7 linked regions of the Homo sapiens genome follow. The protein of the gene in region 1 purifies or fractionates together with the protein of each later gene. This does not show direct contact. Each region holds a gene or a part of one and is shown in the gene's direction. Other genes may lie near its edges.

Region 1 (4,089 bases):
CAGGAGCTGGCAGATTATTACCCCAGTTCCCCTCACCTTGAGTGGGATAACTCTGAGGGGCATCTTCTCCCCTAGCTTCCCCGAGTGCCCCAGCAGGGCTAAATTCCACTTGCCCACAGCGGAAACCTGCTTCATAACACGACTGTTATCGGATCCTTCTCTTCCATGTCTCATTTCCCTCACCCCCCGACCAGCATTTCCTGGGATCACTCCCAATTAACTCTACTTGCCCTCAAATCTTGTCTTAGAGTCTGATTCTGGGGAACCTTAAACTAAAACACCCCCTTCATCTAGCTTATATCTTTATTTTCTGGATGAAGGAACTGAGGCGCAGGGAAGGGGAGTGAGTCACCCGTCAGAGCCAGTGGTAGGGCCCTAATGAGAGTCCTGTTCTCCCGGCCTAGGGCTCAGCTCTTCACAATGTTACTTGCTGCCTCCCAAGGGCTGCCCCTGTGTCTGTGCCTCCTACTTGCACCCACGTGGATTCATCATTTTATTTCCCAATGCAAAAGAAAAGGCTGATTGCAGGTTGGAAAATCTATGGGCATCAGAGGCAGGTGCAAGAACTCCTGAGCTCATTTCTGGAGGTAGACACCTCTCCTCCCTTGGTCCGGGTCCTTGGACCTGTCCCTCAAGATTCCAGGGCCTTGGTTTACTCAGCAGTGGGACAGGCTGCTAGGGAAACCCACTCACTGGGGACATAGAAGGGGTTGTTCACGCAAGCAACCAGCCCCCCGCCTCTTCCCTACCTCAGCACCACCTCAGGGGCAGTAAAAATTCACATTGCCACGTTTCTAAATGAAACAATTTAAAATTATATTTGCTTTATAATTTTAGTGGAAAATGCATATTCTTTCAATCTAGGTCACCTATGTAGTTGAACAGAAGAACATCAATGAGAAAATGACCCCTACTTTCTAGCCACCGAAACGTCAATTCTGGGAGTTTCTGCCTGCATCTTCATACCCCTGGAACCTGAGCTCCTCCGGTTCCATCTCTGATGTGGAGGAAAATGCACTTTCTGAAAAGTTTCTGGGTTTCACTCCTCCCATGCACTGTGAGACTTGGGGCAGTTTCTCCCTCTCTGAACCTCTGGCTCTTCATCTGTGGAATAGGGATGAGGATTCCAGCCTCGCAATGTTGCTGTCAGATGGCAGATGAGGGAATAGCCTGGCCGGAGAGGGGCCCTCCTGCCTTTGCCTCTGCTTGGAAGGCAGCTGACAGGGGCCTGCCCACAGGGAGGGTGTGGCCCGGGCAAGGCCTCCTGCTTGTCCCTCCTCCAGGTTGGCCTTGGTGACAATGCAGGGAACCCGTGCTGAGCTCTCTGCACACAGCCCCAGTCGGGCAGCAGGAAACCGAAGACATGAACAAGGTCTTCCCCCAGGTGAGAGCTGTCCCCAGGTGAGAGTTGTCTCCAAGTAAGAGCTGTCCCCAAGTGAGAGCTGTCCCCAGGTGAGAGCTGTCCCCAGGTAAGAGTTGTCTCCAAGTAAGAGCTGTCCCCAGGTAAGAGCCGCCCTGACCAGGCTCCTGATCTTGGGAGAGCAAACCTTGGGATGAGGAGTGGGCAGTAGAGAGTGGGCATACATGGGAGACACGGAGGAAAATCAGCCCCCGTCCTGCCCCGGGGCTCACTCCCAGGGTGTAGGGGACCCTACCAATGACCCAGCAATACAGTCCAGGTGGCAAGTGCTGGTATGGAAACAGAGGAGCCAGGTGGACAGGAGGGAAGAGCGGCCAGTTTTACTGGGGAGGAGGGTATCAGGGAAAGCCTCACCCAGGAGTCGCTGCCCAAGCCGGTTTGAAGGATGAATATTTATCAGGTGGACAGCAGAGAAAAAGGCTTTCCAGGCAGAGGGCACAGTGCAGGCAAAGGTGTGGACATATGAAGCGGGCATGATGCATCTGGGGCGTGAGATGCTGGGGTGTGACGGACCCGTGGTTCTACCTAAGACTCTCTCAGTGACCCCTCTGAAAACCCTGTTGTCTGCCTCCCTGAGGCTGGAGCTCACCTCACCTAAGCCCACCCCTCACTCTGTTCTCTTGGGCAGGGAGAGAATGGCTACACTGCTGCTGAATCCAAAGCCCACCCTGGAGGGGAAGGTAAAGAACTGGAGGGCCTGGGGCCAGTGCCCTGTGGGGCTCCCTTGAAGCTGGCAGTTGGCGATAGAGACATGAGGAGGGTTCAAGGCTCCCACTGTCCCTCAGACCTCTGCCTCCATGTTAACGTTGTCTGCTCCCAGCTTCCTGGCCAGCCATGCTGACAGTCACTTGCTTAATAGGGTTATTCATTCTCTCCATGCACATGCATTCATTAAGCACCTACTGTGTGCTGCCTACCTCACAGGCACCAAACTGCATACAGTGCCCACCTGTAACACAGAGAAAAGAGCACCAGCGTCAAATTCTTGACTCAGTGGGTGACCTGGGCAATTCTCTTTAACTCTGATGGATAAAGTGACACATTTATTTAGCCCTACTATGTGCCACTGGCCCATGGTGTGACCAGGACAGTCCTCTTTACCCTTCTGAAAATAGAAGAAGGAAGAAACACACATGTACTGAGCTTTGCATATGCCCTGGCTTGGCCCACATTTGATCAATGACGAAACACACTCAGAGAGGTAGATTAAAATACCAGCTATAAAGAATCCATCCCCAGTTAGGTGCCTGGCACTGCATGATCTCTTTAATCCTCAGGACAGCTCTGAGACAGGGGCCCTGTTATGGGGCAATAACAGATGAGACAGCTGAAACTAAGAGAGGTTGAGTAACCAGGCCAAGGTCACACAGCAGGGAGGTTGGAGGGCCAGGGTTCAAATGTGAACTGAGGTCTCTCTGGTTACAAAGCCCCAGGGCTTTTGTTGCTCCGAGCTGGTGTTTGTTTATTTCTAAGTCCTGACTCATGATGGGCGGGGTTGTGGAAAGAATCACCTCCTTTTCCTCATCGGTACAGGGAGAGGACTGGCACCTAAGGGCTTTCTGGCTTTGAAGTGCAACAGCTTCACCTGGGCAGGAGCCTTGGTTCTGCGGGTTCTCCCATGGCCCCACCTTGTGCATGGTCTGTGCTGCACAAATATTTGAGGAGCTGCTTGGCTGATCAGGACACCTCTCCCTGCCCAGAGTCACGCTGCCTCCCTGGTTACCTGAGTTTACCCTGTTTGCTGATGGCCAAGGAGCCACCAACTAGGGCTGTAGGGATGACAGGTTTTAGATTTATGCTGCCTCTCCTGCTATTGTCTCCCCTCCCAATACACATCCATCTTGGAGTCCCACCACCCCAGGCCATTTGTGCTCCCCCACCTGCAACCACTGGGCCTTTACTCCTGCCACGCCCTCTGCCTGGAATGCCCTCTCTTTGCACCCTCCCCTTACCTGCCTGTGGAAATCCCATTCTGCTTCTGAGGACACTGCATCAGAAATGTGAATGGATTGGAAATAACCTGGACTGACCCATACTGGGGGCCTTCTCTTGCCTCCTGGACCCCCAGGTCGGCATATTCACAGAGTGTTCACAAAGCCCCAGGCCGGTGTGGTGGCTCACACCTGTAATCCCAGCACTTCGGGAGGCCAAGGTGGGCGGATCACCTGAGGTCAGGAGTTCAAGACCAGCCTGGCCAACATGGTGAAACCCGTCTCTACTAAAAATACAAAAATTAGCCAGGCATGGTGGCGGGCGCCTGTCATCCCAGCTACTCGGGAGGCTGAGGCAGGAGAATCGCTTGAACCCAGAAGGCAGAGGTTGCAGTGAGTTGAGATCATGCAACTGCACTTCAGCCTGGGCAATAGAGCAAGACTCCGCCTCAAAAAAAAAACAAAAAAAACAAAAAAAACAAAAGCCCCCACCACGTGCCTGGCTCTGGGCTGGGCCCTGGGGTCACAGGGATGAATCACACCTGCTCCTGCCCCTTTCTCTGAGGTACCTGTGGCCTGGGCACGTCAGTAGCTCCCACACCCCTTCAGGCATGTCCATGCCTTGCCTTCTAAGTGCAATAACAAGCTGCAGAGGGCAAGGACCAGGGCAAGCTGCACAGCAGGGCACCCAGGAGGTCCTCAGTAAAGCCTTCTTTTATTATTTTGTAAGCAGGGGAG
Region 2 (4,342 bases), on another chromosome or scaffold:
TTAGATGCCACCTCTCAGTGAGAAAAGTATCAAAGAATTTGTGGCCCGTCCGGGCACAGTGGCTCACACCTGTAATCCCAGCACTTCAGGAGGCCAAGTCTGGCAGATCACTTGAGGCCAGGAGTTTGAGACCAGCCTGGTTAACATGGCAAAACCCCTTCTCTACTTAAAAAATACAAAAATTAGCTGGGCATGGTGGCACACATCTGTAATCCCAGCTTCTCAGGAGGCTGAGGCACGAAAATCACTTGAACCCGAGAGGTGGAGGCTACAATAAGCCAAGATCACGCCACTGTACTCCCGCCTGGGCGACAGACAGAGCGAGACCCTGTCTTAAAAAAAGAAAGAAAAAACAAATGGAATTTGTGGGCATTTTTAGGCTACCAGAGATCACAATCTTTTTTCACATTTTAAAAGGCTCATTCTTGCTGCTGGGTAAAGAGTGACTGGGAAGGGGCCAGAGAGGAGCAGTTAGATTGTCATCCTTTAGGCTTCCCCAGCATCCTGTGGGTGTCTTTATCAATGCGTAGCACACAGTTTTGCAGTTATTTGTTTTGCATGTCTGTTTTCTCCACTGGACTGAACTTCTGAAGATAAAGACTCTCTCTCATCTCCATACCCCCAAAACCTGGCATCTCATTACTAGATGCTTAATAAATTTGTTTTTTTTTTTTTTTTTCAGATGGAGTTTCATTGTTGTTGCCCAGGCTGGAGTGCAGTGGTGCGATCTTGGCTCACCACAACCTCCGCCTACTGGGTTCAAGCAATTCTCCTGCCTCAGCCTCCCAAGTAGCTGGGATTACAGGCATGTGCCACCACACCACACATATTGGTCAGGCTGGTCTTGAACTCCTGACCTCAGGTGATCCACCCGCCTCGGCCTCCCAAAGTGCTGGGATTACAGGCGTGAGCCACTGCACCCAGCCAATAAATGTTTTATGACTCAAAGAATAATTATAAACAGAGGGAGACCAAAGTATTACAAGTCATTAAAGAATATACTTTTAGATATTTTCATACTAATTATATCTAATTGTGATATAGGCACAAGATCTAGCTTTTAAAGACTTGCATTTTTCAGATAAAAACCCTGAGTATTGCTTTAGTATTGTGATCCTATCTGAAGACAGGTTTGTTGAATCTTAATTCTTGTTTATAGTATTTTATTACCATTTTTTTTACTAAGAACACTGTCAAAACTTTTTAGTATTTCTTTAGACCATCTCATTCATAAATCAACACTTACTGTTGATGCCTGTTCTGTGTGAAACCCTCAGTGGAGGAAATAGCAAAGAACTAGAAGTCATGGTCTCATTTGAAGGACTGTACTTCTAATTCAATAAAAAATGTAGAAAACATCATTTTTAGTATGACCAACATGGAGAAACCCTGACTCTACTAAAAATACAAAATTAGCCGGGCGTGGTGGTGCATGTCTGTAATTCCAGCTACTCGGGAGGCTGAGGCGGGAGAAGCACTTGAACCCGGGAGGCAGAGATTGTCAGCCAAGATGGCGCCATTGCACTCCAGCCTGGGCAACAAGAGTGAAACTGTCTCCAAAAAAAAAAAAAAAATCAAATCTTCTTTATAACTGTAAGAAAATAGTTATCTACAACTTTTTGCTTGATTTTAACCTAATATATTCTTTTTTTTGTTTTTGTTTTTGTTTTTTTGAGACGGAGTTTCACACTTGTTGCCCAGGCAGGAGTGCAGTGATGCAGTCTCGGCTCTCAGTCTCTCAGGGTAGGTAGCAGGCTTTTTTTTTTTTTTTTTTTTGAGATGGAGTCTCACTCTGTCACCCAGGCTGGAGTTCGGTGGCATGATCACGGCTCACTGCAACCTCCGCCTCCTGGGTTCAAGCGATTCTCCTGCCTCAGCCTCCTGAGTAGCTGGGATTACAGGTGCGTGCCACCGTGTCTGGCTAATTTTTGTAACTTAATATATTCTTAACCATTACATTCTATTTTAGGTATCCTGAAGCAGTTTATGTTGTTTATACCGGCGATGTTAATGTCAACGGTCAACAGATACTAGAAGGTGCTTTCAGAAGATTTAACATCAGATTAATTCACCCAGTGCAGTTTGTTTTTTTAAGGAAACGCTATCTTGTGGAAGATTCACTGTATCCTCACTTCACACTGCTGGGCCAAAGTCTAGGATCCATTTTTCTTGGCTGGGAAGCTCTAATGCAGTGTGTTCCTGATGTTTACATTGATTCAATGGGATACGCTTTTACGCTTCCTCTGTTTAAGTATATAGGGGGTTGCCAAGTTGGAAGCTATGTTCATTATCCTACTATCAGCACCGACATGCTCTCTGTAGTGAAGAATCAAAATATTGGATTTAATAATGCAGCCTTCATTACCAGGAATCCTTTTCTCAGCAAAGTAAAGCTCATCTACTACTATTTATTTGCTTTTATTTATGGACTTGTTGGTTCTTGCAGTGATGTAGTCATGGTCAATTCTTCTTGGACACTAAACCATATTCTCTCACTATGGAAAGTTGGGAATTGCACTAACATTGTTTATCCACCTTGTGATGTGCAGACATTTCTGGACATTCCCTTACATGAGAAAAAGATGACCCCAGGACATTTGCTGGTTTCTGTTGGCCAGTTTAGGCCGGAAAAGAATCATCCATTGCAGATCAGAGCCTTTGCTAAATTGCTGAATAAGAAGATGGTTGAGTCACCTCCTTCGCTTAAACTTGTCCTCATTGGAGGTTGTCGTAACAAAGATGATGAACTTAGGGTAAACCAACTGAGAAGGCTGTCTGAGGATTTAGGAGTTCAAGAATATGTGGAATTTAAAATAAACATTCCATTTGATGAATTAAAGAATTATTTGTCTGAAGCAACAATTGGTCTGCATACCATGTGGAACGAGCATTTTGGGATTGGTGAGTTTGGCCTTTAAACAACTTGTTTGGTGCCATGAGATACACATTTTAAGTTCTTTTGATAAAATGATAATACTCTGGAAATCTGCATCATGCCCTAATTCTCTTGCCCTCATCCACCAAATGTGCTTTCCTCACTTGAGACCTTGTAAGATAGTAGTTAATAATAGCAGCTAGTATTTATTGACCAATTCCTGTGTGTGGGCCACTGTGTTGAGATTTTTACATGTATTATCTAATTTAAGCCTTTCTAAACCCGTTTGATAGGTGTTATTGTTATTCCCATTTTATAAATAAAGAAACTCAGGCACAGGAAGGTTTAGAAATTGCTCGAGTTCAGTTACACAGTAAGTGGTAGAGCCCGGATTCTAACCCAGATAGCCCCTGCTCTTAACAGCAACATTTTCTCTCTCCATCTAACCCCACTACATACTTACTGGTACAGATTCCTGGGCCCTACCCTAATCCTACAGAATGGCCAAATGAGAATCTCTGGACAAGGCCCAGGTAGATGTATTTTGATAATGCTGCTTAAGTGATTCTGTTATGCATCAAAAGTTGAGAACCACTGTTTGCATAGGGGCTTCTCACAGTAACTCTTTTAGTCTTTTATTGATTCTACCCTCACCATTGGAATGGCTCTCCTCTTTGTGCCAGATTGCATCATAAGTCTTCAACTTAAATCTCCTTGCACTTTAGCCTTTCTTGTTTATTCTGGCACAAACTGCTATCTCTATTCTGACCTGTTAAGCACACATTTTGCTATAAAATCAAGTACTGCTTTGTGTTTAATTTGGGTCCACATATATTTCTCAAGCGCTTTGTGCCTCACACTGTTAGTTGTTAGGGGAAATGAGGATAACATAAAAGTGACATTTCCTAAACTAAGACTTCAATTTCTCTTATACTCTTTTTACTCCTAGTTAGTAGTGTAGTGCTAGGCCCAGACATTAAGCAAGAACTTGTTGACCCAACCTGTTGCATGGGATCTGACCTCCTGTGCTTCCTTCCATAGAAACTTACTAAGCATTCACTCTGCTGAGCGCTTGGGTGGATGCTAGGGATGTGGTGGAGACAGGAGCTGCTTGGCCTGTCAGAGGCTTCCCACCCTCTGGTGGTACCAACAGGCTACACAGGCAAGTGCCGTGCCGTGCTGTGCCGTGTGCCAGGTGCTATGCTAAGGAAGTGCAGGGTGATGTGAAAGCGCCAAAGAGAAACCTAACACAGACTTGTGCGGGCAGGGAACAGTTGCCCAAGGAAATGATGTGACACTTGAGCAGGACCCGAACAATAGAGGTTAGCCAGGAGAGAGGGGAGAGTCTCCAGCAGAGGGAACAGCACTGTGACAGGAGTGACAACAGATGCATCAATAGGAACATTCAGCAGGAAGACAACAGAGAGGTGATATAGGCCAGGTTAAGCCAGTGGAAAAAAATAGCAG
Region 3 (4,342 bases), on another chromosome or scaffold:
TTTGTTTGTTTGTTTGTTTGTTTTTGAGATGGAGTCTGGCTCTGTTGCCCAGGCTGGAGTGCAGTGGCACAATCTCGGCTCACTGCAACCTCCGCCTCCCAGGTTCAAGTGATTGTTCTGCCTCAGCCTCCCGAGTAGCTGAGACTACAGGTGCCTGCCACTATGCCCAGCTAATTTTTATATTTTTAGTAGAGACGGGGTTTCACCATATTGGCCAGGCTGGTCTCAAACTCCTGACCTCGTGATCCCCCCTGCCTCAGCCTCCCAAAGTGCTGGGATTACAGGTGTGAGCCACTGCACCCAGCCTTTTTATTTTGAGACAGAGTCCTGCTCTGTCGCCCAGGCTGGAGTGCAGTGGTGCAATCTCGGCTCACTGCAAGCTCTGCCTCCTGGGTGCACGCCATTCTCCTGCCTCAGCCTCCCAAGTAGCTGGGACTACAGATGCCTGCCACCACGCCCAGCTAATTTTTTGTGTTTTTAGTAGAGATGGGGTTTCACCGTGTTAGCCAGGATGGTCTCAATCTCCTGACGTCGTGATCTGCCCACCTCGGCCTCCCAAAGTGCTGGGATTACAGGTGCGAGCCACTGTGCCTGGCTGGTTTTTTGTTTTTTTTTTTTTAATTGAGATAGGATCTCACTCTGCCACCCAGGCTGGAGTGCAGTGTTGCAATCTCAGTTCACTGCAACCTCCGCCTCCCAGTTCAAGGGATTCTCCTGCCTCAGCCTCCTAAGTAGCTGGTATTACAGGTGTGCACCACCGTGTCCGGCTCATTTGTGTATTTTTAGTTGAGACAGGGTTTCGCCACATTGGCGAGGCTGATCTCAAACTCCTGATCTCAAGTGATCCGCCCACCTTGGCCTCCCAAAGTGCTGGGATTATGGGTGTGAGTCACCGTGCCCAGCCTTGTGCTCCCAGCTTTAAGTGTGGCACCAGAGGCACAGCAAGATGGTCTCGTTTGTCCTGATGACAGACGAGGGAGTGACAGAGGCAGCACCAGAGCCCAGTGGCATTTCAGAATATACCCATAGAGCTGCTGCACCCAAAACCTCCCGGGGGGGTCTTGGAACTGTAGGTTGAGAAGAGCTAAGCCACAATGCTTTCTTTGTCTCTGTCAGGAGTACGACCCCAGCAAAGCGACCTTTGTGAAGGTGGTGCCAACCCCCAACAATGGCTCCACGGAGCTCGTGGCCCTGCACCGCAATGAGGTAGGGACTGCCTGCTGGGCTCCTGGAGGAGGGGCTTGAGTAGGATTCCCAGGCGCTGACACCCCAAGGTCAGGGGCCTCTGTGGCAAACACACCTTCTACCGCAGGGCGAAGACGGGCTTGAGGTGCTGTCCTTCGAATTCCAGAAGATCAAGTATTCCTACGATGCCCTGGAGAAGAAGCAGTTTCTCCCCGTGGCCTTTCCTGTGGGAAACGCCTTCTCATACTATCAGAGCAACAGAGGCTTCCAGGAAGACTCAGAGATCCGAGCAGCTGAGAAGAAATTTGGGAGCAACAAGTGAGTCCTTGATTTGCCTGTAGCACCTTTGCCTTTCTGTCCTGCTCCCCTCCTGATTCAGGGTGCCTAGGAAGCGGGACAGAGGCATCTGCCCTTTTATTTATTTATTTACTATTATTTTATTTTTATTTTATTTTTTATTTTTGAGACTGAGTCTCGCTCTGTCACCCAGGCTGGAGTGCAGTGACGCGATCTCAGCTCACCCCAACCTCCGCCTCCCCGGTTCAAGTGATTCTCCTGCCTCAACCTGCCAAGCAGCTGGGAATACAGGCTCCCCCCACCACGCCTGGCTAATTTTTGTATTTTTAGTAGAGATGGGGGTTTCACCATGTTGGCCAGGCTGGTCTTGAACTCCTGACCTCAGGTGATCCTCCCATGTTGGCCTCCCAAAGTGCTGGGATTACAGGCGTGAGCCACTGCACCCGGCCAAATCTGCCCTTTTAGCCAAATGTCCCAGGTGACTGTGATGCCGCTTGAGCAACATGCTCTAAGTCCAGTCTCCCCTGAACTTGCCTGCTGGCAGGAACCCCAGAGGGTCTGCAGCTGGAAGCCCGTGCCCTGGGGTGTGAGACCTTGAGTGTAAGGTTCTTCACAGGAGTCTAGCCTGTGGCCCCTCCTCAGCAACAGCTTTATTTTAAATTCTTTTAAAATGTTTATTTGTGTAGAGATGGGGTCTCGCCGTGTTGCCCAGGCTTGTCTCAAACTCCTGGCCTCAAGCAGTCCTCCTAAATCAACATCCCAAAGTGCTGGGATTACAGGCATGAGTCACTGCACCCAACCTAAACATTTCAGTCCTCACTGTTTCGAGTCTACGCATCTCAGCGCTTCAGAATGGTGATGGAAGACCGTGACCATGTCTGCCCTTTTGTACTGAGTACAATGGCCAATGTGCGGTGCACACCCTCTCCCTTCATCTTCACCAAAACTGCAAATGCTGACACGTGGCTGGGAGCCGGAGAACTGGGCTCCAAACCCCATCATGGCCTTGTTACGATGGTCCTCAACCCAGAAACCCACAGAACACCTAGGGAGCTCTTTCCTGACTTAATCACTGTTCAGAGATTACAAATATGTTGACTACAACTATCAATCTAATACAAGGATTTATAAGAAACATTTAGCAACTTCCCCTACCCCAAGGTTGGCCAGTCACATTAATGGCCTGTGGCAACTACGTTCCCTTTCATGCTGTTCTTACTCAACGCAAAGGTACCCAGCAAGATACAAGGGAAGGGCTTATTGTTTGATAGCAGTGGGGTTGCTCTTTGGTTTCCTCTTCTCACATCCCATACATAAGACGTCCATGCAGTTAAAGGGCAGAGCGAGAATGACCCTCGTTGACATGACTGGTGCCCTGATCAGATTGGACTATGGCACAGAGTACTGCAGAACACACCCTTAGGCCCAAGTCCTTGCATTCTCGAGCCTTTTTTTTTTTTTTTTTTTTTTTTGGAGACAGGGTCTTACTCTGTTACCCAGGCTGGAGTGCAGTGGTGTGATCATGGCTCACTGTAGCCTTGAACTCCTGGGCTCAAGCATTCATCCTGCCTCAGCCTCCCAAATAGCTGGGACCACAGGCACACACCACCACCCCCAGCTAATTTTTAAATTTTTTGTAAATAGAAGGTCTTGCTGTGTTGCCCAGGCTAGTCTCTGACTCCTGGGCTCAAGCACTCCTCCTGCCTCGGCCTCCCAAAGTGCTTGGGATTACAGGCGTGAACCACCCTACTCGACCCATTCTGGGGCTTTAATTCAGGAATCATAGAAAATCTCAGCTTTGGTGGGGCTGGGTCTCAGTGTCTTCTGCTGTCTGTAGCTTCAGGGCCTCCATCTTTCAATCAGAGGTTCCTTCTCTACTTGCTGTGTCACTCGACCAGATGACGGGCTCTCGTCTGACACCAGCCCCAGGCTGCCAGGAAGAGCATATTGCAGATTAAGGAGCTTCATCTGTTTTATGCAGAGCCGAGGGCTGTGGGCGGGCAGCATGTCTACCCCAGGCTCAGCCAGGATGAGGGAGAGCCACTGCCAAATGGATCCTCCTATCTGGAAGCTCGCCAGGGCTCCCGACGCCCACATATGGCTCTTGGTTTCTTGAGAGCGGCCTGCCATGCTCAGGTTGGAGGGGTCAGGGTGGAGACTCCATACCCCAGAGGCCTTGCCCTGGGAACAGGATGGGGCCTGGTCTCTTGCAGGGCCGAGATGGTGGTGCCTGACTTCTCGGAGCTTTTCAAGGAGAGAGCCACAGCCCCCTTCTTTGTATTTCAGGTAAAGCAGCAGCTCTGGCCCATCTCCCCATTTCCTCCCTTGGGGCTTTCCTAACCGGATCAAGCCTGCCCACCACTTCTAAACCTGGAAGCCTCTCCCCACCCTCACATATCAGATCCGGTGGGTGGAAGGGGCTCATGGGAACAGGGCGGGTAGGGCAAGGACAGACAGGCTGGTATCCCACAGGTGTTCTGTGTGGGGCTCTGGTGCCTGGATGAGTACTGGTACTACAGCGTCTTTACGCTATCCATGCTGGTGGCGTTCGAGGCCTCGCTGGTGCAGCAGCAGATGCGGAACATGTCGGAGATCCGGAAGATGGGCAACAAGCCCCACATGATCCAGGTGTGGCTGCCAGGGAGACCCAGGTTGGGGGTGCAGCACAGGTGCGGCTTCTGTGCTGACACCCATGCCCCGCCCAGGTCTACCGAAGCCGCAAGTGGAGGCCCATTGCCAGTGATGAGATCGTACCAGGGGACATCGTCTCCATCGGTGAGGCCGGGTTCCGCTCAGTCCCAGTGGGAGCCCCAGCCTCAGGGCCTCTGGCCAACCCTCCTGCCTCTGCCCTGCAGGCCGC
Region 4 (4,054 bases), about 22 Mb from region 1:
TAGCACTCAGTTGTCTCCTCTGGCCTTTTTTTTTTTTTTTTTTTTTTTTTTGAGATGGAGTCACGCTCTGTTGCCCAGGCTGGAGTGCAGTGGCACAATCTTGGCTCATTGCAATCTCCACCTCCTGGATTCAAGCGATTCTCCTGCCTCGGGCCTCCCAAGTAGCTGGGATTACAGGTGTGCACCACCACACCCGGCTAATTTTTACGTTTTTAGTAGAGATGGGGTTTCACCATGTTAGCGAGGCTGGTCTCAAACTCCTGACCTCAGGTGATTCACTCGTCCTGGCCTCCCAAAGTGCTGGGGTTACAGGAGTGAGCCACTACACTTGGCCTAGGCCTTTCTTTTTAAGGTAAAATTTCCATACAGTGAAATGTGCAATCCTTTTTTTTTTTTGAGACAAGGTCCCACTCTGTCTCCCAGGCTGGAGTGCAGTGGTGCAATCACAGCTCATTACAGCCACAACCTCCTGGGCTCAGGTGATCCTCCCACCTCAGCTCCCAAGTCGCTGGGATTACAGGCGCATGCCACCACATCCAGCTAATTTTTGTATTTTTTTGTAGAGACAAGGTTTTGCCATGTTGCCCAGGCTGGTCTAGAGCTTATGGGCTCGAGCGATCCACCCACCTCGACCTCCCAGAGTGCTGGGATCACAGGCATGAGCCACTGCACTTGGCCTACAAATCTTAAAGGGTACAATTCTTTCAGTTTTGATAAAGGTATATATACTCATGTAACCCACCCCTCATTCAAGATATAGAACATTTCCAGCCCTTCAGAAAATGTCCTCATGGCCCTTCCCAGTGATCCTTCCCCCAAGACAAACTACCTTTCTGTTTTCTTTCACGAGAGGTTAGTTTTGCCTGTTGTAGAACTTAATATAAATGAAATCGTGTCCAACTTCTTCTTTTTTTTTTTTTTTGCTACAGAGTGTCACTCTGTCACCCAGGCTGGAGTGCAGTGGCGCGATCTTGGCTCAGTGCAATTTCCGCCTCCCAGGTTCAAGCAGTTCTCCTGCCTCAGCCTCCCGAGTAGCTGGGATTACAGGCGTGCGCCACCATGCCCAACTAATTTTTTGTATTTTTAGTAGAGATGGGGTTTCACCATGCTGGCCAGGCTGGTCACGAACTCCCAACCTCGTGATCTGCCTGCCTCAGCCTCCCAAAGTGGAACTGGGATTATAGGCGTGAGCTGTTGCACCCGGCCCCAACTTCTTTTTTTTGTTTGTTTGTTTTTGAGATGGAGTCTCGCTCTGTCGCCCAGGCTGGAGTGCAGTGGTGTGATCTCGGCTCACTGCAAGCTCCGCCTCCCAGGTTCACACCATTCTCCTGCGTCAGCCTCCTGAGTAGCTGGGACTACAGATGCCCGCCACCGCACCTGGCTAATTTTTTGTATTTTTAGTAGAGACAGGGTTTCACCATGGTCTCAATCTCCTGACCTCATGATCCATCCGCCTCAGCCTCTCAAAGTGCTGAGATTACAGGCGTGAGCCACCGTGCCCGGCCCCCAACTTCTTTTATTCAGCATATTGTTTGTGAGGTTCATTCATGTTATGAGTCGCACAATAACTTTTCTTTTTTGTTTTTTGAGACGGGGTTTCGCTCTTGTTGCCCAGGTTGGAGTGCAGTGCTGCGATCTTGGCTCACTGCAACCTCCACCTTCCGGGTTCAAGCGATTCTCCTGCCTCAGCTTCCCGAGTAGCTGGGATTACAGGCCTGTGTCACCATGCCCCGCTAATTTTTTTTTGTATTTTTAGTAGAGACGGGGTTTCACCATGTTGGCCAGGCTGGTCTCGAACTCCTGACCTCAGGTGATCTGCACACCCTCGGCCTCCCCAAAGTGCTGGAATTACAAGTGTGAGCCACTGTGCCCAGCCAACTATTTTTTTTTTAAATGAGTGAGTCAGCAAGGCAAGAGCATTGGGTTGAGAAGGGGGCTGCTTACAGGCTGTGACTTGCAGTCCTCTGGTCCAGGCCCTTGGGATTCCTGGGAGATCTCACAGGACATTATAAGAAAGCTCACTGGGCCAGGTGCAGTGGCTCACGCCTGTAATCCCAGCACTTTGGGAGGCCAAGGCGGGCGGATCACGAGGTCAGGAGATCGAGGCCATCCTGGCTAACACGGTGAAACCCCGTCTCTTCTAAAAATACAAAAAAATTAGCTGGGCGCAGTGGCGGGCGCCTGTAGTCCCAGCTACTCAGGAGGCTGAAGCAGGAGAATGGCATGAACCTAGGAGGCGGAGCTTGCAGTGAGCCGAGATAGAGATAGCGCCACTGCAGTCTGGCCTAGGCGAAAGAGCGAGACTCTGTCTCAAAAAAAAAAAGAAAGCTCACCGGTCCTAGCATTTCATTCACATGCTCACTAGGGCCTCTCTGTGCCAGGCCTTGCGGCATGCTCTGAGGACACAGGGATGGATTAGATCCTCCCGCTCAAGGGCTCTCAGCCTAGTGAGGTATACAGATGGGAAATAAATAGATGACCAGCATTGGGGAATGTGGACTAGTAGCAGGAGATGCAGGGAACAGTTAAAGGATGCCAAATGGGCCAGGCACGGTGGCTCATTGCCTGTATCCTAGCACTTTGGGAGGCCAAGGCAGGCAGATCACGTGAGGTCAGCAGTTTGAGACCAGCCTGGGCAACATGGCGAAACCCCGTCTCTACAAAAAATACAGAAAAATTAGCCGGGCGTGGTGGCAGGTGCCTATAGTTCTGAGGCAGGAGAATCACTTGAACCCAGGAGGTGGAGGTTGCAGTGAGCCGAGCGCCACTGCACTCCAGCCTGGGCGGCAGAGTGAGACTCTGTCTCAAAAAAAAAAAAACACTCATAGGTTGGAATTGAACAATGAGAACACTTGGACACAAGGTGGGGAACATCATACACCAGGACCTGTGGTGGGGTGGGGTGGGGGAGGGATAACATTAAGAGAAATACCTAATGTAAATGACGAGTTAATGGGTGCAGCACACCAATGTGGCACATGTATACATATGTAACAAACCTGCATGTTGTACACATGTACCCTAGAACTTAAAGTTTTTTTAAAAAAATAAAAGGATGTCAAACTCTAGGGAGTTTGAGAAAGGCTTTGTGGAGGAACCTGGGTTTTGAAAGATGATGAAGAGCTTACCAGAAGGATTAGGCTTTGGGAAGGGCAATCCAATTGGAGGGAGCAGCTTAGGGAGAGACGTGAAGCAGTACAGAGTGCTGGAGGAACGAGAAACAGCATGAGCTGTGTGGTGAGGGTTGTGGGAAGCCACACAAGACCTCAGAGGCCATGTCAAATCCTTGGGGCCTTGACCCCAAGGGCACTAGGAAGCCTTCAAAAGGTTTTAAGCAGGACCAGGCGCTGTGGCTGACGCCTGTAATCCCAGCACTTTGAGAGACTGAGGTGGACAGATCACCTGACGTCAAGAATTCGAGACTAGCCTGGCCAACATGGTGAAACTCCATCTCTACTAAAAATACAAAAATTAGCTGGGCATGGTGGCAGATGCCTGTAATCCCAGCTACTCTTCAGGCTGAGGCAGGAGAATTGCTTGAACCTGGGAGGCGGAGGTTGCAGTAAGCCAAGATTGTGCCACTGCACTCCAGTCTGGGCGACAAGATCGAAACTCATTCTCAAAAAAAAAAGCCCACAAAGAGTTTTAAGCAGAGGGTGGTCAGGCTGAGCTTAGTATTTTACAAAGACCACTCAGACAACTGTGTGGTGGACCACTTGGAGGCAAGAGGTGAGACCAGATGAAGCAAAGGGACCCAGAGAGGAAGAAGGGTTCTCTCAACAGTCTCTTAGTAATTAATGTCAGCCCTAGACCACCTAACTCACAGTACAGTGAATTCCTCATGATTCTTACCCCATTTTACAGAGGAGGCAACTGAAACCCAGAAAAGGAAAGTCAGCGTGTCTAAGTGATAGAAATGGGAGTAGAGCCCTGGTGATTCCCTCCTGCCCATTCTTCTGGTATCCCTTTTGTGGGTGAGCTGGGGATAAGGGGCACCATTGAACTGTGCCCCCAGGTGGACTGAAGAATGCATGTGGCCGCAGGGCGTGCTGGT
Region 5 (4,342 bases), on another chromosome or scaffold:
GCTGGTCTCAAACTTCTGACCTCAGGTGATCCTGCCCTCCTTGGCCCTCCAAAATGCTGGGATTATAGGCGTGAGCCACCATGCCTGGGCTGAGCAAATCAAAAAGTTGATAAATTTCTAGCCACTAATCAGGAAGAAAGAGAGAATGTGCAAATTACCATTATCAGGAATAAAAAAAGGGATATCATTACATACTTTGTAGACATTTAAAGTAAAGCAAGGGCTTACTACCTTACTGGATACCCTCCTGAATCATTTTAAAAGTTGTAGGATACATGAGTTTGAATAAAATTGTTTGATGAAATGTGAAGAAAAGTGAAAAAAATTCTATATTTGATTGTTCTGAAAACATCTGCAATATTTACTATTTCCAGGCTATCTGCTTTAATATTAAACTACCATCTTTATCCTTAATTATCCATAATTTAACCAGTATGAGAATATACACAATGTGCTTTTCAAAAACCTCTTTCTATGTGTACCTCTACTTTTTGAATGTTTTGCCAGCATGTTGATTATAGTTATAAATTATTTGTTAATAGTTTGGAATGGAAGAGTATGATAATTATATTGCTTTCTGTTGCAGGCATCATTAAGCAAGCTAATGGAAACACTTGGTCAAGCAGAACCATATTTTGTAAAATGCATTCGCTCTAATGCTGAAAAGGTAAAAATGTCCTATAAATGAGAGCACATATCTCAGCTTACTTCAAACTGAGCTTTAAATACTTTTAAGCAGAATAAGTGGAGGGGAAGCACTAACTATAATATTTATAAGGAAAATAGTATGTTATAAACACTTTAAATGGATTTTTCCACACTTCCCTGCCTGTAAGGTGTTTATTTGGATTTGATTTAGCATCACCCAGAATTTGAGAAGCAAATACCTCTTGAAGTCCTGTCAGAAAAGAATTTTCTTTTTTGTTTTTGTTTTTGTTTTGAGGCAGAGTCTCACTGTGTCACCTAGGCTGGAGTGCAGTGGCATGATCTCAGCTCACTGTAATCTCCGCCTCCTGGTTTCAAGCAGTTCTCCTGCCTCAGCCTCCTGAGTAGCTGGGACTACAGGTGTGCACCACCACGCCCGGCTAATTTTTGTATTTTTAGTAGAGACAAGGATTTGCCATGTTGGCCAGGCTGGTCTTGAACTCCTGACCTCAGGTGATCAGCCCACCTTGGCCTCCCAAAGTGCTAGGATTATAGGCGTGAGCCACTACACCCAGTTGTAGGTTATCTTGTTACAGATTTTGTAGTGATTGGACTATGTGGCCTCTGTGGGTGACTACATTCTTTTTGAGCCTTTAAGGTCCTCTCTCTTCACAACCAGAGAAGCCTGGAAGCTTGGTTTCTCTCTTTTCCCTAGGGTTGGGCAGTCAGAACTTTTCTGAAGCTACCAGCTGAGAGGTGAGCTTGCCTTAATATACTTAGTTACTGTATATGTTAACCAGACAACCTCCAGTCAATCTCTAGATACTCAACAGTTAGTCATGCTTATAAACAGATAATTAATTTGGAGATCTACTGTTCTGGGTTAATCTTTTTTCCATTTGCTTTAGCTGCCCTTAAGGTTCAGTGATGTCTTGGTACTTAGACAGCTTCGATACACCGGGATGCTGGAAACAGTTCGAATTCGCCAATCAGGATACAGCTCCAAATATTCTTTCCAGGTTCTGTTTTTATAGTGATATTTACATATTTAGACACATCAAGTAAATGATTCCCACATATCTTGCTTATTATTTCTTTGGGGCTTACTTATTTTCCTTAATTCTTCCTTTCCATTTCACGTTTTGTATACGGAATTGAAAAGGGATAGACAGTATTTACTTTGATTGAATGGCAGCAATCTCATTAAGCTTATTGTAATAGAATCCAGTACTTGGCTATTCTCATTTGCTCGGAATGTTTGCTAATACTAAATTTACTCCTGATATAACAATTCTTTGCACTGACCTCTCCAGTAACTGAAATAGTTCAATGAGAATTATCTAGTGAAAAGATTCTATTTGGTTTTCCCTAAAGTTTTCTCAGCAGGATTTTCTTTCATAGTAAGCTGCCAGCAAGGCTCACAGCTACTCGTATCAGCAATTGCTGCTATGGGTATGGAAACTATATTGAAGCTGTTCAGCAACTGAGCAAGTCTTTGCTGTTACTGGGACGGAAAGCCTCATTCTCAGTGATACCCTGTCCCCATCCTGCCACGTTTGCTTTTTTTTTCCTGATAGAAATTTTAGGGTCTTGTTAAATACCCTTTTCTTTGGTCTTTTATAAAGCTTTCTCAAAAGGGATAATTAGCCTCTGCCTTTTTTTTCTCTCATTCCCTTTTGATGTCATGATATGTAGAACCCAATATCTTTCTCCACCTCCTATGTTTTCCGAATTAACCTTTTATCATATCTTAAATTAACATGCACGTCTTGGTTTCACCCTGTTTAAAAGAAAGAGAAAAGATTAATAGAATGATAATTAGTTTAAGGTCTTGTTTACATACACTGTTTTCTGATTTTACAATATTTTTAAATTATTTTTCAGGATTTTGTGAGCCACTTCCATGTACTTCTTCCCCGAAATATTATTCCATCCAAATTTAACATTCAGGATTTCTTCAGGAAAATAAATCTTAATCCAGATAATTATCAAGTTGGAAAAACCATGGTAAATATAATCTGTATAGCTCTGGTCAAAATTGAGTGCATTTATTTAAAAAATAATAATTTTTGCCTATGAGATTGTTTATTAAAAAGATAGTGAATCAGATATCAGAAGACAATTGGTTAGGCCCAGGTTTTTATTTAATTATGTAGTCAATATTAATCACAGAGCTCTGGCCAGTGCTCTAGTTCTGACTATAATTTTAACTGCCTAAAAATCATCTCTCCATAGATACTCTACTGTAATCTCCAAGCCAGCTTGCCCAAGGTGACCATATCCAGATTCATCTGTTCTTAAATTTATCAAATACTTTCTTTCTCTGTCACCCTTTTTCCAGTTTCTCAGTCTAGAAACCATAATTGTCTTTGGCATACCGTTCACTTTAATCCTTTCACAAAGTTTTAGGGATTTTTTTTCCTTTTACAAAGAGATTCTTACATCGCTTTCTGTTTCTCCATTACTACTGCTTCCATTTTATTTTTATTCCTTATCTCTTCTCATCTACATTGCTTATACAGTGAACAGCTTACTTATCTGATTCTAGTATATTTGTCATTCCATTTAATTTATTCTACTCATAATATTAAAATTATTATCTTAATATACTTAGTTCTTTATGTCTGCCTCCTGCTTGATAATAACCTCCTGATAACCTCCTCATTAAATCCAAACATCTTTCTCTTTTTTGAGAACCTTCATATTGTGGCTTCACATTACTTAATATCTTTTTTATGGAGATTAATTGTCCCGTTGTCTCCTGTGCATGCCTTTATTATTATTTTCAACTCTCTGTGTTACTCAGGTGGGATCTTTTGTCTCTGGCCCTTATTAGTTTACCATCTTCCTCTTCGGGTATATAATATCTACCTGCTCTCAAATGAGAGGTATAATTCCTGTTTCTAAAGGGATATGTCTCCTTCACCTTTGCAGCCTCACAAACCCTAAACATTAGTGGAATGAAGGAGTAAATAAAATAAACTTATTAATAACTTTGGACAGTGAGAAGCTTTTAATGCACGCTGGATTTCAAAAAGACTGTTATCATTGGTTTATTCATTATATGATTCAAGCTTCAAGATCTATGGTTTTCAACTTTTTTCCCCATCCCAACACGCTTGAAAAATATGACTTATTACCAGTAATACATTTACTCATAGCAGTGGTTTCCCCAATGGACTAATGTATCATAATCTCTGGCACTGGAATTTTGATATTCTTGCTCACCTTGTCATTTTTCCCTCCCTTCCTCCCTTCCTTACCTTCCTTTTTTTGTCTTTTTTTTTTTTGGAGACCAGGTCTCTCTATTTTGCCGTAGAACTGGAACTCCTGGGCTTCAGCAAACTTCCTGTTTCAGCCTTCTCAGTAGTTAGGAGTATAGGCATGTAGCACCACACCCAGCTCACCTTCCGTATTCTACTATCTCCATTTCAATTTGAGAATGACTACTTTGGATAAATCTGTAGGAATATTTATCAGTACTTCATTTACATGCCTGCCACTGTGTTTGTTCTTCTCTAAAAGCTTATCACAGAAAGGATGATTCATGAAATAAATTTCTCATTTCTTCTTAAGCTGCATTCCTCATCTTTCTTCCTTTTGGTAGGTCTTTCTAAAGGAGCAGGAACGACAGCACTTACAAGATCTGCTTCACCAAGAGGTGCTCCGCAGAATCATATTGTTGCAGCGATGGTTC
Region 6 (3,970 bases), on another chromosome or scaffold:
CACTGCATTCCAGCCTGGGCAACAGAGAGAGACTCCATTTCAAAAAAAAAAAAAAAAAAAGGGAAAAGAAAAAAAGATGCAAAAGGAGGTAAAGAAGCTCCCTTGGGCCTGTTTTATAAGGATGCTGCTCCCATTAGGACCCCACCTTCATGATCTGATCACTTTCCAAAGGCCCCACCTCCTAACACCATCACCTTGGGGTCAGGTTTCAACATGGGAATTTGCAGGGACACAAGCCCACAAGCCTTCAGACCATAGCACGGGCTCCAGAGGTGTGAGGCAGGTCAGGTGCTTTAGAAGTCAAAAACTCTCAGTAAGGCAAATCACCCCCTATCTCCTGGCCTTCCCTGAATCTTGCCTGCCTTCACTCTCCTTTCTCTGGTTTTCCTACAAGGTCTGAAAACTCCAAATGGCTGTGAGCTGGTGGTGGGGGGAGAGCCCCAGTGCTGGGCAGAAGGGCGCTGCCTTCTCTTTGATGACTCTTTCCTGCATGCTGCGTTCCATGAAGGTGAGTGGCTGCCTTTCCCACTTCCTTTTTTTCAATGAATAGACTTTTATTTTTTTAGAGAAGTTTTAGGTTTCCAGAAAAATCAGGCAGAAAGTACCAAGGAGGCCCCTTCATATCACCCCATAACACATATACACACACAGTATTGATGCGTTATTATTACCTAAAGTTCATGGTTGACATTAAGGTTCACTCTTGGTGTTGTCCATCCATTCTGTGGGTTTCGCCAAATGGATAATGACACGGACCTACCATGACAGTATCATACAGAATAGTTTCACTGCCGTAAAAATTCCCACTTAAAGATCCCTCCATCTCCCCATTTCCTTTTGTCCACCCTGCTCAGAAGCCCATGAAGCCAGGTTTATGCTCTCAGTGAGAGAGGAGGTGGTCCGATCCGAGCCGAGGGACAGGATGGGGTCCCTGCCCCGAAGCTGAGCACGTAGGGTCCAGCCCTGCCTGGATCCTGGGTCCTGACTCCAGGGTGGTTTGAACCTGTCCTCTCACCCCTCCTTCCCCCCCAGGTTCAGCAGAGGATGGCCCACGGGTGGTTTTCATGGTGGATTTGTGGCATCCAAACGTCGCAGCGGCCGAACGGCAGGCTCTTGATTTCATCTTTGCTCCGGGACGATGAGAGTATTTCCCATGCTGGAGTCGGCGAGAAGGGCCGAGGCGGGGCCTGGGCAGACTGTGGTCCGGTCCAGTCCCTACCGGTGTTGTTTCCATGCTCAGAAACCTGCCTCAGCGGAAAGCTCTTATTTGGGATTTTATATCATGTCGGGTCCCTCTTTCCCTTGGTTATTGTAAATGGAAACTTTTCGGCTTGTATTTCCTTAGATTTTTTTTTTTTCCTTCCAATCATTTGCTTCAGAGACTCCTTTCTGGCCTAACAGCGCATTCCTTTGATTGGTCCTTGAGTGACCAGAGACTTAGTGCCCTTGTAAGTCTGTCTTCTGTTGCTACTTGTTTTTTTCAGTGCTCTGAAATAGAGTAACTAAATGGTTATTTGTCTGAATATAATAATGTAAAACTTCTTGTGGTCATCTTAAAAAAAAAAAAAAAAAACTAAAAACTGCAAACCAGAGAGCTAGAGAACTTGGCCTCTGATGCTGGCACACTGGGGACCCTTCAGCCACCTGACGGCAGGGGGACAGTCTGCAGCCCCCACACCTGACTGGCTTCAGTAGCCAGGTGGAGGGGCTGCCAGACACAGTCAGGGTGGCACACAGTGTCCAGGCCCAGGGATACTGTCACCATCGCTCACCTCATTCTAAACCTTGTCAGGTCCCTGATGGCAAAAGCATTGGGCCAGTAGGACTGGAGGCTACTCTTTAAACATGGCTTTCCTGCAAAGCTGAAGCTGGTGTCCCCCAGCACCAAGCTGCGGCTCACACAGATCAGCCACGGAACGTGTGATCCGCTTACCTCACTGCCTACAGAAGCCCTACTGCCAAACTGGGCCTGGAAAATTCCCAGTTTTAGGTGTTTTGAGTCCACAGTGATGAACGTTAAGGCCACCAGGTTGGCTGATAGGAGCTGTAGGGGGATAGGACCGCGCTCACCCAGCGACATTTGGGGAAAGCCTTTCTCTGGCAAAACTGGAATAATAGATCTGACCAAAGTTTCTGTTTTGCTTTGGAGTTCTGTTGCCTATGTTTTTTTTTTTTTCATTTATTTGTCTGTACATAAATGTTCAAACACTAGACTTGGAGATAGTGGAAGAGTTGGCCCTGTGTCTTTGTCATGGCACAAAGGTGTGCACTGCGTGACAATGACCCAAGCCAGTGTGTGCTAGTGAGGAGACAGAGAAGACCTACATGCCCAGAGGACCCGTGGCCGTTGTGCTGGTTTTCTGGTCTCCTGTGAAGAACATGTGGATCTCTTCCCGAAGGAAAAGGTCCCAGGAGACCAGTTTGAGGCACTCACTCTAGAAATAGCCTGTGTTAGCTGATGTGTGAAAGCGTAGCCGGCCAGCCACACTAGAGATGCCTTTTCTGAATAATGTATTATGAGCAGTGTCAGATTTATAAAGCCGAGGAGTGGTTTGGAATATACAGCTGGTCGCAGGTGCAGGTCCAGTGTTTAGATCCAAATGGAAAACAGCAGCTTCTAAGAGGTACAACTGTTGGAAGAAAACACAGTTGAAATGCACCAGGCAGGTACTAGCAAGTGTGCAAAGAGCACGTCTACATTTGAGTAAAATGTCTACACAGATATTTGTCAGTGATGAGAATGCAGGAAAAGGCAGACATTTCAAACATACCTGAAGTCTTTTTACTCATTATCTTGTTAAAGAATCACTGAGGTGCATGATTTCTACACATCGTGACTGCTCTGCTCTGCGTTTACAAAACCAACAGCCCGCGCAGGTACCTAGCTACCTGCATTCATGTGACATGTCTGGGGAACAGAAGATAAATAAAGGATCTTGCTGAAAACCAGAGTGAAGTGGTGAGGTCATCTGTTGTAAAGAAAGACTTAGGCCAGGCTCGGTGGCTCACGCCTGTAATCCTAGCACTTTGGGAAGCTGAGCGGGGAGGATTGCTTGAGCCAAGGAGTTTGAGACCAGCCTGAGTAATATAGTGAGGCGTTGTCTCTACCAAACAAACAAACTAGCTGAGTGTGGTGGTGCACACCTGTAGTCCCAGCTATTTGAGAGGCTGAGGTGGGAGGATCACTTGAACCTGGGAGGCGGGGGCTGCAGTGAGCCTAGGTCGCGCCAGTGCACTCCAGCCAAGACGACAGAACAAGACCCTGTCCAAAAAAAAAGACTTGCTAGGCAGAAGGGGGCAAGTGACTTTGAGGCTCTTGTGTTTTGAGTGATGTCACAGAGACAGGCGGGTCACTAGAATTGATCGTGGATAGTGAATGAAGCAAAATGTCCCAAAGCAATGGGACTAGTGGGGTGGGGACAAGAGCACATCTAGGATATGTTAAGGAGCAATAGATGTCTAACTGGGCAAAGAAGAACAAGGACCCTGGCTTCAGAAAAGCTGAGGATTTAGGACTCCGTGCCAGGAGTTTGCACCCTCGGGACCTTGGGCAAGTCCCTTAGCCTCTCATAGCCTCAGTTTCTCCTCTGTGGGTATGTGCAGTATCTGGCACATGAAGGGCACTCAACAACCTTGTTTCCCTTTCTGCCACAGCTGAGTAGAGAAACAGGTGAAGAGGAAGGCCGCCAAATGGAAGAGATGGGAAAACACATCGGGACAGCAGTGGGTGTGGCCAGAGAAGCCAGTGGCTACTTTCAATTGCCTGTGTCTAATCACAGAGGAAGAAACATGTCCCTCAGTAGCTGTGTTTTTCATGTTTTTCCCTTTAGAAGAGAGGGAGACAGGGGGGTCTCCCAGCCAGGAGCCCTAGAAGCAGCCGGGCTGCCGCATGTTTCCACCTGCAAGCGAGGTTCCAGCCAGCTGTCCGGGCTGGGCTGCCACAACAAGCGGAAGGGAAGAGCGCCACTCA
Region 7 (4,342 bases), on another chromosome or scaffold:
TTACAGGCACAGAGCATATTGTGTTTATCTCTGTAGCCACAGCATGTAGTGTAGTACCTGAATTTTAGTGGGAATTTGGTAACTTCTGGTAGTTATGTTGATTAGTCTCCTTGGAAGAAAGTAACTTTATAAGCTACGGATGTTAAATGGTGAGATCATAAATTGGCTGAATCTCCAGGCATGGTGGCTCACACCTGTAATCCCAGCACTTTGGGAGGCCAAGGGTGGCGGATCACCTGAGGTCAGGAGTTTGAGACCATCCTGGCTAACGCGGTGAAACCCTGTCTCTACTAAAAATACAAAAAATTAGCCGGGCGAGGTGGCGGGCGCCTGTAGTCCCAGCTACTCCGGAGGCTGAGGCAGGAGAATGGCGTGAACCCCAGGGGGCGGAGCCTGCAGTGAGCCGAGATTGCGCCACTGCACTCCAGCCTGGGCGACAGCGAGACTCCGTCTCAAAAAAAAAAAAAAAAATTAGCCGGGCGTGGTGGCATGTGCCTGTAGTCCCAGCTACTTGGGAGGCTGAGGCAGGAGAATCGCTTGAACCCGGGAGGTGGAGGTTGCAGTGAGCCAAAATCGCACCACTGCACTCCAGCCTGGGCGACAGGGTGAGACTCTGTCTGATAGATAGATAGATAGATAGATAGATAGATAGATAGATAGATAGATAGACTGAAACTGTGAGCCACGTACATTTGAAAAGTTAGTGTTATTTGAACGTACAATTGACAAGATCTGATGCCCTCAGCTGGATGTCTTCACTCAGACTGTGTATGTTCCTTTAATTTATTAATCAAAGAGGCTCTCTCTCTTTCCCTCTCCCTGCAGGTTGCCATGGCTGCTGTTGACAGTTTCTACCTCTTGTACAGGGAAATCGCCAGGTCTTGCAATTGCTATATGGAAGCTCTAGCTTTGGTTGGAGCCTGGTATACGGCCAGAAAAAGCATCACTGTCATCTGTGACTTTTACAGCCTGATCAGGCTGCATTTTATCCCCCGCCTGGGGAGCAGAGCAGACTTGATCAAGCAGTATGGAAGATGGGCCGTTGTCAGCGGTAACCTACTTTATAATCAAAATAATCTTTTCTGTGAAGTCGGATGCATTATTCAAGGAGCTATTGAATTTAATGTGGTGTTTTTATGGGAACATGCTGATAAAAAAATAAAACTTATGGCTCCTGCCGTGATTATGTTCACATTTCATTTTCTTACTGCTCTCATCTTAGGAAGAACTGGCCTCATGATTGGTATCCTTCCTATTCTGCTCTCTCCTGTTCCCAGTCCTCCTCCAGACCCACTTCCTACTATGTGCTTTTCCTTTTTGTTCTCTGTTTTAAAATTGTCTTGAAAGTGTTGCCACTTTCAGAAATGCTTCACCTATTTTGAATTTCATTTTAATTTATGAAGATTTCCCAGAAAAGCACCTCCTGCCACTCATTCAAGCCAGATAGTAGTTTGAAAACAAATTCCTACTGTGTCTCCTAACCAATATGGTGAATGTAAAATAACTCCCTGTCCGTGTGTCAGGATGTCTGGGAGAGTGTATAGCATGCGCCCTTCACATTCCTCATTCAGCAACAGTGTCCTTGACTTGTAGATACTAGAACCGACTTGATTTCTAGTGTGAATTTTTCTCTGACTAAACCTGACAGGGGGTACTTTGGGTCCATTTTAAGGGTCACACCGTGAAATACACATGCTCACTTTTCCTGACTTGCATCCTAGGTGCAACAGATGGGATTGGAAAAGCCTACGCTGAAGAGTTAGCAAGCCGAGGTCTCAATATAATCCTGATTAGTCGGAACGAGGAGAAGTTGCAGGTTGTTGCTAAAGACATAGCCGACACGTACAAAGTGGAAACTGATATTATAGTTGCGGACTTCAGCAGCGGTCGTGAGATCTACCTTCCAATTCGAGAAGCCCTGAAGGACAAAGACGTTGGCATCTTGGTAAATAACGTGGGTGTGTTTTATCCCTACCCGCAGTATTTCACTCAGCTGTCCGAGGACAAGCTCTGGGACATCATAAATGTGAACATTGCCGCCGCTAGTTTGATGGTCCATGTTGTGTTACCGGGAATGGTGGAGAGAAAGAAAGGTGCCATCGTCACGATCTCTTCTGGCTCCTGCTGCAAACCCACTCCTCAGCTGGCTGCATTTTCTGCTTCTAAGGTCAGATGTTACTTACTGGAAGATGAAATCCTAATGCCACAGAACATTTATTAACAGTTGTTTGGTCTGATTTGTTGAACTCTTTGTCAGCAACTCACATATGCTTATCCTGTATTTTTTCCTGAATTGATAATAAGCAAGTCTTTTTTTCTCCTGAATTTTCAAGTTCACCCAGAATTAAAAGTCTTTTCCTCCCCTCTGTCTCAACAGGCTTATTTAGACCACTTCAGCAGAGCCTTGCAATATGAATATGCCTCTAAAGGAATCTTTGTACAGAGTCTAATCCCTTTCTATGTAGCCACCAGCATGACAGCACCCAGCAACTTTCTGCACAGGTGCTCGTGGTTGGTGCCTTCGCCAAAAGTCTATGCACATCATGCTGTTTCTACTCTTGGGATTTCCAAAAGGACCACAGGATATTGGTCCCATTCTATTCAGGTAGGAGTGTGCTTCAGGTCTCATAATTAGATTAATGCATCATGAACCTATCTCAGTGATACAGAGAAATCTGATTAAAGCCTAAGATGAGAATTGTAAATTCTGACTCTTAAGCCTGACACTTAATAATTTTGGTTAAGACACTAAATTTTCTTTCTTTTTTTTTTTGAGATGGAGTCTGGCTCTGTCACCCAGGCTGGAGTGCAGTGGTGCGATCTCAGCTCACTGCAAGCTCCGCCTCCCGGGTTCATGCCATTCTCCTGCCTCAGCTTCCCGAGTAGCTGGGACTACAGGCACCTGCCACCACGCCTGGCTAATTTTTGTATTTTTAGTAGAGACGGGGTTTCACCGTGTTAGCCAGGATGGTCTTGATCTCCGGCCTCATGATCTGCCTGCCTCAGCCTCCCAAAGTGCTGAGATTACAGGCGTGAGCCACCGTGCCTGACCAAAGACACTAAATTTTCTTTTGTGAAATTATTACCTTAAGAATTTTCAAAAGTTCAATCTATGTGGCACCTTAAAGTGAAATATACTACTTTGGCTGGGGTGTGGTGGCTCACATCTGTAATCCCAGCACTTTGGGAAGCTGAGGTGGGTGGATCACCTAAGGTCAGGAGTTCGAGACCAACCTGGCCAATATGGTGAAACCCTGTCTGTACTAAAAATACAAAAATTAGCTAGGCTTAGTGGTGTGTGCCTGTAGTCCCAGCTACTTGGGAGGCTGAGGCAGGAGAATCGCTTGAACCCTGGAGGCGGAGGTTGCAGTGAGCCAAGATCACGCTACTGCACTCCAGCCTAGGCGACAGAGCAAGGCTCTGTTTCCAAAAAAAAAAAAAGAAATATGCTGCTGTAAGTGGATGTTAGGACTATAAAAATACTAAGTATTTACATGGGAATTTCAAAGTAAAAGATTCTAGTACTGCTTGAGGGTTACCTCTCAGTGAAAAATATAATCCAAAAAAACCACAAAACCACAAGATAGGGCTATATTTCATGCAACCATTTTATCAAATAATATCTCTGTATAGTCTTAGACTAATTTTTTCAAGAAGCATAGAATTTTTATTTTAAGCTTATTGTTTAGGCATGACAAAGGATTGGTACCTTTTAGTACTGTAGAAAGTAACTTTCTTAGATATTTGAAATTGTGATCGTAAGTATTAATTTGAGAATGCATAATTATCTATTACAATATATTTCAGTTCCTTTATCTGGTGTAGTAAAGAGATGTGCCCTAGTTTAGAATTTTTTTTTTTTTGAGATGGAATTCCGCTCTTGTTGCCCAGGCTGGAGTGTAATGGTGCGATCTTGGCTCACTGCAACCTCCACCTCTCGGGTTCAAGTGATGCTCCTGCCTCAGCCTCCGGAGTAGCTGGGACTACAGGTGCCTGCCACCACGCCCAGCAAATTTTTGTGTTTTTAGTAGAGATGGAGTTTCACCATGTTGGTCAGGCTGGTCTCGAACTCCTGATCTCAGGTGATCCACCCGCCTTGGCCTCCCAAAGTGCTGGGATTTACAAGCGTGAGCTGGCAGGGCGTGGTGGCTCAAGCCTGTAATCCCAGCACTTTGGGAGGCCAAGGCGGGCGGATCACGAGGTCAGGAGATCGAGACCATCCTGGCTAACACCGTGAAACCCCGTCTCTATTAAAAATACAAAAAAATTAGCTAGGCGTGGTGGTGGGCGCCTGTAGTCCCAGCTACTCAGGAGGCTGAGGCAGGAGAATGGCGTGAACCCG

The links.
Region 2: the proteins of LDLRAD1 (region 1) and ALG11 purify together in Homo sapiens (co-immunoprecipitation; 2 studies listed by BioGRID and IntAct, with this or other methods). This does not show direct contact.
Region 3: the proteins of LDLRAD1 (region 1) and ATP13A1 purify together in Homo sapiens (co-immunoprecipitation; 2 studies listed by BioGRID and IntAct, with this or other methods). This does not show direct contact.
Region 4: the proteins of LDLRAD1 (region 1) and TMEM39B purify together in Homo sapiens (co-immunoprecipitation; 2 studies listed by BioGRID and IntAct, with this or other methods). This does not show direct contact.
Region 5: the proteins of LDLRAD1 (region 1) and MYO9A purify together in Homo sapiens (affinity purification with mass spectrometry; one large-scale study listed by BioGRID and IntAct). This does not show direct contact.
Region 6: the proteins of LDLRAD1 (region 1) and ASPHD2 purify together in Homo sapiens (co-immunoprecipitation; 2 studies listed by BioGRID and IntAct, with this or other methods). This does not show direct contact.
Region 7: the proteins of LDLRAD1 (region 1) and HSDL1 purify together in Homo sapiens (co-immunoprecipitation; 2 studies listed by BioGRID and IntAct, with this or other methods). This does not show direct contact.

The regions. Positions count from the first base shown.
Region 1 is NC_000001.11:54,015,387-54,019,475, reverse strand, and holds the start of LDLRAD1 (low-density lipoprotein receptor class A domain-containing protein 1), read left to right. Parts: upstream 1-1,289; 5' UTR 1,290-1,299; coding exon of another isoform or gene 1,300-1,363; coding exon 1,364-1,384; intron 1,385-2,048; coding exon 2,049-2,100; intron 2,101-4,089.
Region 2 is NC_000013.11:52,022,037-52,026,378, forward strand, and holds part of ALG11 (GDP-Man:Man(3)GlcNAc(2)-PP-Dol alpha-1,2-mannosyltransferase), read left to right. Parts: intron 1-1,969; coding exon 1,970-2,901; intron 2,902-4,342. UniProt on the Homo sapiens protein: GDP-Man:Man(3)GlcNAc(2)-PP-Dol alpha-1,2-mannosyltransferase that operates in the biosynthetic pathway of dolichol-linked oligosaccharides, the glycan precursors employed in protein asparagine (N)-glycosylation.
Region 3 is NC_000019.10:19,656,762-19,661,103, reverse strand, and holds part of ATP13A1 (endoplasmic reticulum transmembrane helix translocase), read left to right. Parts: intron 1-1,116; coding exon 1,117-1,206; intron 1,207-1,312; coding exon 1,313-1,503; intron 1,504-3,695; coding exon 3,696-3,768; intron 3,769-3,954; coding exon 3,955-4,110; intron 4,111-4,187; coding exon 4,188-4,257; intron 4,258-4,337; coding exon 4,338-4,342. UniProt on the Homo sapiens protein: Endoplasmic reticulum translocase required to remove mitochondrial transmembrane proteins mistargeted to the endoplasmic reticulum.
Region 4 is NC_000001.11:32,096,427-32,100,480, forward strand, and holds part of TMEM39B (transmembrane protein 39B), read left to right. Parts: intron 1-3,864; exon of another isoform or gene 3,865-4,015; coding exon 4,016-4,054. UniProt on the Homo sapiens protein: May protect the cells against DNA damage caused by exposure to the cold-warming stress and facilitates tissue damage repair during the recovery phase.
Region 5 is NC_000015.10:71,901,251-71,905,592, reverse strand, and holds part of MYO9A (unconventional myosin-IXa), read left to right. Parts: intron 1-586; coding exon 587-667; intron 668-1,553; coding exon 1,554-1,664; intron 1,665-2,529; coding exon 2,530-2,652; intron 2,653-4,252; coding exon 4,253-4,342. UniProt on the Homo sapiens protein: Myosins are actin-based motor molecules with ATPase activity. Unconventional myosins serve in intracellular movements. Regulates Rho by stimulating it's GTPase activity in neurons.
Region 6 is NC_000022.11:26,442,065-26,446,034, forward strand, and holds the end of ASPHD2 (aspartate beta-hydroxylase domain-containing protein 2), read left to right. Parts: intron 1-394; coding exon 395-508; intron 509-1,032; coding exon 1,033-1,142; 3' UTR 1,143-2,617; coding exon of another isoform or gene 2,618-2,630; 3' UTR 2,631-2,951; downstream 2,952-3,970. UniProt on the Homo sapiens protein: May function as 2-oxoglutarate-dependent dioxygenase.
Region 7 is NC_000016.10:84,127,811-84,132,152, reverse strand, and holds part of HSDL1 (inactive hydroxysteroid dehydrogenase-like protein 1), read left to right. Parts: intron 1-825; 5' UTR 826-831; coding exon 832-1,051; intron 1,052-1,721; coding exon 1,722-2,167; intron 2,168-2,377; coding exon 2,378-2,605; intron 2,606-4,342.